Linked DNA regions of Homo sapiens: region 1 is reported to be linked to region 2. The links are microRNA targets in miRTarBase. Many come from high-throughput screens and were not tested one by one. Region 2 holds a microRNA gene; the other region holds the end of a gene's coding sequence.

Region 1 (5,310 bases), not on the chromosome of region 2:
AGGAGGCTGAAGCAGGAGAATCGCTTGAATCAGGGAGATGGAGTTTGCTGTGAGCCGAGATCGTACCACTGCACTCCAGCCTGGGTGACAGAGCGAGACTCTGTCTAAAAAAAAAAAAAGGCAGGAAGAAAACTTAAATGCTTGTTACTAAATGAAAGATGCTAATCTGAAAAGGCCACGTACTGTACGATTCCAACTATACAACATTCTGGAAGAGACAGGAATAGGTGGAGTAGAGAAGATTTTCTAGGGCAGTGACACTCCTCTGCATGATACTAAAATGGTGAATACATGTCACTAGACATCTGTCCAAAACCATGGAATGTGCAGGCAGTCCCCAACTTATAATGGTTAAACTTAACGATTTTTCAACTTTATGAAGGTGGGAAAATGGTGCATTCAGTGAAACCGTACTTTGAATACCGACAAAACCATGTTTTTTCACTTTCAATACAGTATTCAATAAATTACATGAGATGGTCAACACTTTATTATAAAATAGGATTTGTGTTTGATAATTTTGCCCAATGGTAGGCTAATCTAAGTGACCTGAACATGTTAAGTAGGCTAGGCTAAGCTAAGATGCTCGGTAGGTGAGGTGTATTAAATACATTTTGGGCTGGGCATGGTGGCTCACATCTGTAATCCCAGTACTTTGTGAGGCTAAGATGGGCAGATCACTTGGATTCAGGAGTTCGAGACCAGCCTGGGCAACATAGTGAGATCCTGTCTCTACAAAAAATACAAAAATTCACCAGGTGTGGTGGCATGTGCCTATAGTCCCAGCTATTCAGGAGACTGAGGCAAAGGACCACTTGAGCCTTGGAGGCGGAGGTTGCAGTGAGCCCAGATCGCACAACTGCACTGCAGCCTGGGTGCTAGAGTGAGACCCTATCCAATAAATAAATAAATGCATTTTGACTTATTTTCAACTTGTGATAGTTTTGAGATGTAATCCCATGAGTCAAAGAGCATCTGTACAATACCAAGAGTGAACCCTAATGTAACTATGGACTTTTTGTGATAATAATGTGTCAAAATAGATCCACCCATTGGAATACATGTGCCACTCGATGCCGGATCTTGACAGTGGGAGAAGCTAGACATGCATGGGTGCAGGGGGCAGTCAGGAGCTCTGTGCTTCCAGTCCATTTAGCCATGAACCTAAAACTGCTCTAAAAAACGAGTCTACTTTTATAAAAGTAGTTTTGTTTTGTTTTTTTTTTCCAGAGAATAGTCTCACTCTGTCGCCCAGGCTGGAGTGCAATGGCGTGATCTCAGCGCACTGCAACCTCCGCCTCCTGGGTTCAAGCGATTCTCCTGCCTCAGCCTCCCCAGTAGCTGGGATTACAGGCACATGCCACCACGCCTGGCTAATTTTGTATTTTTTGTAGAAATAGGGTTTTGCGATGTTTGCCAGGCTGCTCTCGAACTCCTGACCTCAGGTGATACGCCCGCCTTGGCCTCCCAAAGTGCCGGGATTACAGGCGTGAGCCACCATGCCCAGCCTAAAGGTAGCTTTTTTTTTTTTATTTTTTATTTTTTGAGACGGAATTTCACTCGTTGCCCAGGCTGGAGTGCGATGGCTCGATCTTAGCTCACTGCAACCCCCACCTCCACAGTTCAAGTGATTCTCCTGTCTCAGCCTCCTGAGTAACTGGGATTACAGGCGCATGCCACCGCGCCTAATTTTTTAATTTTTAGTAGAGATGGGGTTTCATCATATTGGTCAGGCTGGTCTCAAACTCCTGACCTCAGGTGATCCACCCGCTTCGGCCTCCCAAAGTGCTGGGATTACAGGCCTGAGTCACCAAGCCTGGCCAGCAGTTTTATTTCACTTTTATTTTAATAAGATTCCTGAACACCACACAATCCTCGAATCGTGGTTGTTACCAAAAAATCAAGTACCAAGTGGCCGGGAAGCATTGTCCCAAATGCCTTTAAAGGCATATTCTCACAAATGTTCATCTTTCATGTACACTTGGCTTTAAAAGAACACATCAAATTTTACATCAACATAAAGGTATGTGAGTGATACACAAATGTGTTCTTGCACATCATTATAAGGCTATTAGTTTGTTCTGTGCAAGCATATACACTAAGCTTAAATTTATCTTCTTCAAAAGCCACCTCTGCTCCTGCTATGAGGTTTTAGATCACCCAAGTTGTACATTTCCTAAATCCCTCTTCAGTTCCCATTCCCATCCTGTTTTTGTGTAAATCCAAGTTTTCTCCTAAAACTTCTGGAGCATCTCTAGAAGATAAGTTCTCCCGACAATTCCAAGAAACCCACGAGTAAGGTACTTAAATATAACACATTTATGAGAAGGGTTGGCTTGTCCTCTGTGCTTTTCCTTCCTTCCTATAAACATGTGCAGACGGCAGGAAAGTACCCCCGCCTCCACCCCTCAACAGCGAAGCTTCTGAAGATCCCGACGGAAGGCATGGCAGCCATCTCCAATCATTCTTCTGTTTTTGATGTGTGGCTTTTGATGAGAGAACAGTGATATGAACACCCTTTGCACCAAAGTGACTTGCTTATTTTTTTTATTAAATGATACATTGAAAGTATAAAAAGTTGCCGCAGTACAAACAAATTACAGAATAATGCATATAAAAGCGCTATGGACTACACGTGACAATTCTGCTTAACTTCCATCTTGATGATTTTATATCAGTATCCAAAATTATATACTCCAGCATTTTTTCCGAATATAGTCTTACATGATTGCAATTCCTGAGGTAAACTAAGTGTCCACTGCCAACATCCTTGGACGAAAACCAAGTCCCCCGGGAGAATTCAGATATTTATATTCACACATACAATACAACGGAATTCATCAATGTAATCAGATATTGCAGATTTAAAAATGGAAAATGGACTCTTGCAATACTTCTGCATCCATATATAATTTTACCAGCAGGGCCTCCCAAAATGTTGTGTAAGTATAGTTTAAATGGATTTCATTAATAAGTTTCTGCATTTAGATAAAAATTCTTGGCTAATCTGTAAGAAGTGAACACTGACTAGCATTGCCAAACAGAAAATCAAAAGTTTCAACAATTTGCAAAGCAGCACAGAATTGACACCCTAAAGAGGATGCCAATTTTGCTAACTACAGCTCTTACCACTCTTCTCCATGGAAAACCTTTAAGCTAAATGTTGTCAGTGTTTAGGTGTGCAGGCAAAATTTAATTCTGAATATACCATCGAACTTTTGCCAATCAGGAGCTGTCTATCATCATAGTCAGTTGTTTTCAATGAAATGAGCCTGTGGACACTACATTAAAAATACTTCTTTAATAAATATCGAAGTAGCGTATTAGAGATAGCACATACTATTTTTCTATCCCAAGAATAAAAATTGATGTTTGGTAAGAGTTTCGGAGCCCAAACAAGTAGGGGGCTGGCCCTCTTCTGGCTCATCTGTGATTGCACAACCGAGGGCCACACGGAGATTAAACAATGCCATCTTTGAAAAATCCCTTTCTGGTATTTCTCCCAAAGCCTGTCTCTTCATGCTTACTTCACATTCTTTATCTAATAAAATAAACTCTTTGTTTTATTTACAGCAAAATTATTACAGCAAATTTACTTCTCCTCTACCTTTTAATTAAATCTTCCAGTAAGCCAAAGTCTAAGGAAAGAAAAAGTACATTGTTGCCTATTGAAAAGGTAATACAAAGCCCTTTCATTTCCTTACAAACTTTAAGGGCCTTTATAATACTTCCTAAATGGCTGGGCTCAGTGGCTCACACCTGTAATCCCAGCGCTTTGGGAGGCTGGGGCACACAGATCACCTGAGGTCAGGAGTTCAAGACCAGCCTGGCCAGCATGGTGAAACCCCATCTCTACTAAAAATACAAAAACTACTCCGGTGTGGTGGCACAGGCCTGTTTTCCCAGCTACTTGGGAGGCTGAGGCAGGAGAATCACTTGAATCCGGGAGGCAGAGATTGCAGTGAGCCGAGATCGTGCCACTGCACTCCAGTCTGGGTGACAGAGCGAGACTCCATCTCAAAAAAACAAAAAATACTTCGTAAAAACAATACTTTTTTTTTCAAGTCAAATCCAATAAGCTAGATGACAAGAGTTAGCTTTTATTCACAAATGTAGTTAAACATGAGGGGTGTTTTGTAGAAACTCCAATTTCTACAAACATTAGTGGTGCATTTTGGTAACATTGGGACAATAAATAAGTTATTTAATTAATAATACAATTTTAAGACAAAAGATACCCCAAACAAAGCATTATCTGTTGACTGCCTGAGAAACATGAAGATCTTCAATGTTAGTACTTTTCTGTTCCTCCTTTCTTAGGTGGTCATCTGAAATGCACAGAAACCAATGTTAATACTTATCCCAAGTCAAAACACACAGATAGGTAGACATAGCTACAAATATCTTAGGATGTTACATATTTAATATTCTATGAGTACTTTAGATGGTTTAGGACAATGAAAAAAACCCATTATTTTTTAAACACTATTGAAGAAATCAGAGGCCAAGCGTGGTGGCTCACGCCTGTAATCCCAGTACTTTGGGAGGCCGAGGTGGGTGGATCACCTGAGGTCAAGAGTTATAGACTAGTCTGGCCAACATGGTGAAACCCCGTGTCTCCTCAAAATACAAAAATTACCCGGGCGTGGTGGCAGGCGCCTGTAATCCCAGCTACTCGGGAGGCTGAGGCAGGAGAATTGCTTGAACCTGGGAGGCAGAAGTTGCAGTGAGCCAAGATCGTGCCATTTCACTCCAGCCTGGGCAACAAGAGTGAAACTCGGTCTCAAAAAAAAAAAAAAAAAAAAGAAAGAAATCAGAAATGTCTGGCATTAGGGACTCTAATTATTCAAAAGAGTTTCTTGACTTTTTTTTTGAGTAGAGTACAACCTGCAGTAAACCCATGCATAAGTAGTTACAAACCTCTCTCTTACATGTAAGGAATGAAATTTGCAAGAAAGGACAAGGTGTTCAATCAGCATTTTGAGGGTTGCCAAAGCTCTTCAATTACAACACAATGAAAACCACTTCAAATAGATCACCTGAGGTCAGGAGATAGAGACCCTGTCTCTACTAAAAATATAAAAATTAGCCAGGCGTGGTGGCGGGCACCTACAATCCCAGCTACTTGGGAGGCTGAGGGCAGGAGAATCGCTTGAACTCAGAAGTGGAGGTTGCAGTGAGCCGAGATCGTGCCACTGCACTCCAGCCTGGGCGACAGAGCAAGACTCTTGTCTCGAGAAGAAAAAAAAAGAACCTAGAGACTTAATATCCTAATGCAACAAAAATGTAATGCAAAAACTAGATTCTTGA
Region 2 (5,336 bases):
AAAACCGTCCCACAATTCCAACTTGTCCACGATGAACACTGCCCCTCTGGGGAGCACAGAGCTGCCGTGAGGCCTGCGCTCTGTGTGCTGCTGACCTCCTCTTACCAGGCCTCATCGGTGGAGCTCGGTCTGCTGTGCCCTCTTGCTCAGAGACCCCTCCAGCCCTCCTGACAGCTGGGTCAGCCCCAGCTCCTCCACATTTGTTTTCTTGTGCCAGCTTTGGATTCTGGAAAAACAGCTAGTGCTTTGGAAAATCAGCTCTACTTTATTTTTGTTCCTTTGAAACTTAAATGACTTTCCTAAGAAATGTCTGAGGTTAGAATGGTGCAGAAAGGACCATGGCCAAAGCCCAGGCAAGCTATTTTTGGGATGTGAATGAGCACCCATCGCATTTTTCCCTTCCATGAGCCGGAGCACTTGTTCCAAATAGCTCACAGCCTGGAATTACAAAGCACAGGCCCCCTTTGCACAGGCGGAGGAGGTCCACGTGTCTCTGTCTGTCTGTCTGTGAGTCTGACTGAGGTAGATGGTGTGCTTCCAGCTGATACCAGGAGCAGAAGTTTTGAGAAGAGACTGTTTGTCATGTGGATAGTGGAAAGCCCTGCTCTCTGGTAACGAATGAAGAAAGGCTTTAAAGCTGGGTGTCTACGGAGAGGTGGGCAGTCATGAAATCTAGAGAGATGTTCTCTGGAGTTTTTTCTGTCTGTGCCTTAGTGTAATGTGGCTGGGTTATATTCACATCAGCCAACCAATTTGCAGCACCGAGAATGATAGACTTTCAATGGTGCTATATATAGTGTACTTTTCTGGGTTGTTTTCCCTTTTCCTAGTCACTATTTGCAGAACCACTTGGCTTAGAGCAAGATTGACTAGGTACTGTTGGCATTAGCCAGGGCATAGCCCTGTGCAATCTGTGGTACTTTTCAGCCAGCAAGAGGAGCAGAGCATAGGGGAAGAGATTACCTGCAATGCCACATCGACAGGCCAAAAGGCACAATTCTGTATCTGTTATAAATATTTATGTTTAGTATTGAACACTAAATAGTGTGGTTAATATTTGAATGTCTTAAAGAAATTGCATTTTTACTTCTCAGCACCCATCCCCCACCCTAACCTCATCGTCCAAAGCTGACCTCTGCCTCCCCCTACTTTCACAGGTGTGACGTTTCTCCAGATACTTCATGCTGTTCACCTGTGTCCTCGCCGCACCACTGCCGCACACGACTCCTGAACCATGGGGGAAAACGAGGATGAGAAGCAGGCCCAGGCGGGGCAGGTTTTTGAGAACTTTGTCCAGGCATCCACGTGCAAAGGTACCCTCCAGGCCTTCAACATTCTCACACGACACCTGGACCTAGACCCTCTGGACCACAGAAACTTTTATTCCAAGCTCAAGTCCAAGGTGACCACCTGGAAAGCCAAAGCCCTGTGGTACAAATTGGATAAGCGTGGTTCCCACAAAGAGTATAAGCGAGGGAAGTCGTGCACGAACACCAAGGTAAGGGGAAACCCTCCTAGTCTTACCTTTGCAGGGCGTGTGGGTTGACATTTGGGAGGTTAGGAAGCTGTTGCCATTTTGGCACTCTACGGTTCTTAGGTGTGGGTGTGAATGTTGCATTGTTTTCCTCCGGTAAAGGTTTCCTTTGTCTCTAAGCATCAGCTTTTCCTGGCTGGGAGGTTCCCTCCACTCGTGCCCTCTCCAAGGGAGGGAAGCCAGAGGCAAAGTTGAGGGAGAGAAGCCCATGCTTGATATTACCCCCACTTCTATTATCCCTGCTGCCACTACTACTACTTCTAGTAGCTGCTATTTGTTGAGCAGCTTCTAGGTACAAGGTACTTTATGTCCATGATTTCAATGAACAGCTACAGCAGTCCTTCAGGCCATTTTAGAGATGGGGAAATTGAGAAGTCAGTTGTGCCCAAGGTCACACAACTAGAGGGCAACCTTAGTCCATCTGATTCTAGGGCCTAAGACCTAAATCTCAGGGAGAGGCATAGTTACAGAGTTGTGTTCGCCTGGGTGTGGACATTTTAGAAAGATCCCCTGGTTTTGGATTAATTGGCTAAGAAATAGGTCTAGGTCCTTACTGCCTCTTCCTCCCTGTCTCTTTCTCTTCCTCCTGATACCCCTGCATTCTCCACCTGCCCACTCCCTTCCTCAGGATGCATTTCTCTACCTAGGACCACACTCATAGTTAAGCCTACACGAACTGGTTGCATCCCCCATCATTTGGCCATAGACAGCATCGGCGAACATAGGCTCACTATCGCAACCTTTCTCTGACATTTCTGAAATGCCCAGCACCAGATGGGCAGGTGGGAGTCCAGGCGTCTCAGCTGACTTCCCTGGTGGCCGTTGGGGACTACCAGCCCTGAGCACTGGTGCAGGCTGTGTGTTTAGGTTAAAATCGAATGTGCTGTATTTAGACCTCACAGGAGGTAGCTCAGCTAGAACCCTAGGAATTCCAGCCGGTGCCAATCCCGGGACAAGAGGATTGAACTCTCCATGGCAGTCGGGACTGTTGTGTTTTTGTTTTGGTGGTGAGAAGCTGTCGAGTCCACCATGGGATATGCTGCTTTCCACTGCCCCTGGGGAGACAGCTGCCAAGCTCCTGTGAGCCTGGGGCACACTGACACTGCGGGACGTAGGAAAAGCATTCCATCAGGTTGAAACAGACCAGTCGCCTCAGCCCAGAGCAGACTAGCTATCCAGGCAGTGCCTGTTTATAACCTACCATGCTCCAGCTAGGCAGAGGAGATGGGGGAGGTAGGGAAAAGGAAGGGGGAGGAGAAGGTGAGACCAATGTCCTGGGTGCCACTCCTGCCCAGTGCCTCCCTTCCTCGTTGTTGTGACTTCATGGTTCAGAGTTCACGGGGTGGCTCTTCAGAGTTAAAGGAGGGGAAGCTTTTAGCTTCCAAAGTGTCATCCCTCTTAGTAATTGTATATGGTGGCTTCTTTTTTTTAAAGGTCCCATAAAAGTCAGGTGGCCCAGTTGCACTGTGTTCTCTCACAGAGGGTTTTCAGAGCTCTGGTTTTTATTAGGGAATGCTATTGCCCCATACACCCAACATGTTGTGGCTGCTGAGGGACCCTCTTGGTGATCTGAAGACAGATTGTCACAGGGAGTCAGCCAGCAGAGGGATGGAACGGAGGGCTGACCACCAAGAAGAGACCCTTCTTCCAAAACATACTAGCCAGTTGCCTAGCTGGTGTGGCCAGCCTCTATTTTACAAGCTTTGGTAGCTTGAAATAGAACAGTCATCACATCTTGTGGTTGGCAGGTCACCACTGGCTTCTGTGATGCAAAGGGAAAGAAAGCTCCTTTTGTTAGGGATGCTGGGTAAGGTGCCTCTTGCCCAGGAATTTTTATGCCTGTCTTGTGAGGAAGAACAAAGACATTTCACATGTGAGATAACCCATCTCGTAAAAACCGCCTGAATGCTGAGGACTGGAAGATACATTTGAGAATGCATTGTAAGTATGAACTGTGACTGTGTTAGGCTACTTGAGCTGTGCTTTTCAGAAACCCAGCTCAAAATAACCACAAAGAACAGGAAAATCATTGACTCATATTAACAGGAAGGTCCAGACACTTTAAGTCCTGACCTTAACTTGGGTGCTTTGATGCTTTGCTCTCTATTGGCTCCATGCTTCCCTCCTGCAAACACATTTTTCTCCATGTTCGAAGCCTCTCATTCACATCTTTATAGCTCCATTCCAAAAGGCTGGAATCTGTCTCTTCCAGGTCAATATTGAAAAAAACCTCAGAGAAGGATTCTAATTGGCCCACTTCTGGATTTATTATGGCCAAAGCCAGAGGAACTGGCTACTGTGATTGGCAGCCCTTTCAAGCATCACATGATTGATGTGAGGGAGGAGCAAATCCCCAAGGATGTGGGAGTGTGAGACAGATAATCAACAGGTGTCCTTGGCTGGGCGTCGCGGCTCACGCCTGTAATCCCAGCACTTTGGGAAGCCAAGGCAGGTGGATCACTTGAGGTCAGGAGTTCGAGATCAGCCTGGCCAACATGGTGAAACCCCATCTCTACTAAAAAATACAAAAAAAATTAGCCAGGTGTGGTGGCAAGTGCCTGTAGTCCCAGCTACTCAGGAGGCTGAGGCAGGAGAATCACTTGAACCCAGGAGGCATAGGTTGCAGTGAGCTGAGATCACACCGCTGCACTCCAGCCTGGGTGACAGAGCGAGACTCCATCTCAAAAAAAAAAAAAAAAAGAAAAGAAAGAAAGAAAGAAATAAAAAAATCACACAAAAAATGGGTGTCATCTACAGTGAGTGTTGATTTGTATTCTGGCCATGATACAGGCCCCTGGCATATCACATTCATGTGTGGGTGGTTAATGGCCAGCTCCATGAGGCCGGTGCTTGTACTCCTTGTTGTGAGTCAAAACACAGAACAGGGGTCCTCACCTCTTCCAACATGAACAGACACTGTCTTGCTCACATACCATGTTCAGGCATCCTTTGGTGTCATGGTTTATGCTGAGCATTAGTCAAGGAAGAAATGCTGGGCATTTGCATACATGTGGCTGATCATTAATGCTAAGCCAGATGACACAGGTTTGTCAGGTACCAGGCATAAAGCCAAGCTCCTGGTTAGCCATAGGCAGAGCAAGAATAAATGTAATTCAGCCAGAACCCCGACCTTTGTGCTAAAGTGGATGCATCTCAGCACCACCTGGAGTGGGTCTGGGCTTTAGCATTTCACAAGCATTTATCAGCCGCTGCCATATGCTGAGCACCATGCTCCTGCCTCCGTGCCACCATATGTGCGTGTATACACACGTGCGTGTGACAGTGGTGAGAGATTGGGGACCAGGATCTATTTGGAGAAGAAGGACGGGCTCTAATGGAGGTGTCAGGGGACAAGCAGAGTGGCCTGAGAGCTCTCTAGAGCAGTGGCTCAGGTGCCAGTTCCAAAATCTCACTTGGGATTATTGTTTATTATTGATGATTATTTATGAGGGTATTATTGGCACTGAATATTAATAATTCTTTCCCTGGGCGTGACTGTGTTTGGATAAGAATGAGGGTGAACTGAGGATCATGCCAAATGAACTCTTTCAGGATTGATAACTGGCTCTGTATTAGGGTAACACCTGACTCGAATGTTACACCCGACTGAGTAGTGTTACGGAGGAAAACGACCCAGAAGAACCTGCAATATGTAATTTGGTGTGGGAAATGCTATAATCACAAAATTTTGGACTCTGGTTATCTTTATATATAAATCTTTAATGCTAGAAGGAACTTAAGCAGATGTTATGTGCAATCTCTGCATTTAACAGGCCACAAACTGAGGTCCAGAAAGCTGAAG

What was found. Region 2 holds the annotated microRNA hsa-miR-6124 (GGGAAAAGGAAGGGGGAGGA, at 2,771-2,790, shown strand). A microRNA usually pairs through its seed, bases 2 to 8, with sites in the 3' UTR of a target mRNA and lowers its output. Matches are read on the target gene's strand: a 7mer-m8 pairs with bases 2 to 8, a 7mer-A1 pairs with bases 2 to 7 and ends in A, and an 8mer does both.
Region 1: miRTarBase lists CEP20 as a target of hsa-miR-6124. Seed matches in the 3' UTR shown: 7mer-A1 at 3,142-3,148 and 7mer-A1 at 2,872-2,878.

Annotation. Positions count from the first base shown.
Region 1 is chr16:15,863,189-15,868,498 of GRCh38, forward strand. It overlaps CEP20 (centrosomal protein 20), which reads right to left. Exons shown (of 5, transcript NM_144600.4): 5 at 2,531-4,328. The coding sequence ends at 4,252. Among named protein-coding and RNA genes, the nearest start is that of MYH11, 8.8 kb to the left of the region's middle.
Region 2 is chr11:12,160,922-12,166,257 of GRCh38, forward strand. MIR6124 (microRNA 6124) reads left to right here and starts at 2,762; the gene lies at 2,762-2,846. It overlaps MICAL2 (microtubule associated monooxygenase, calponin and LIM domain containing 2), which reads left to right. Exons shown (of 28, transcript NM_001282663.2): 3 at 1,158-1,498. The coding sequence starts at 1,235. RefSeq lists an enhancer at 2,503-3,002.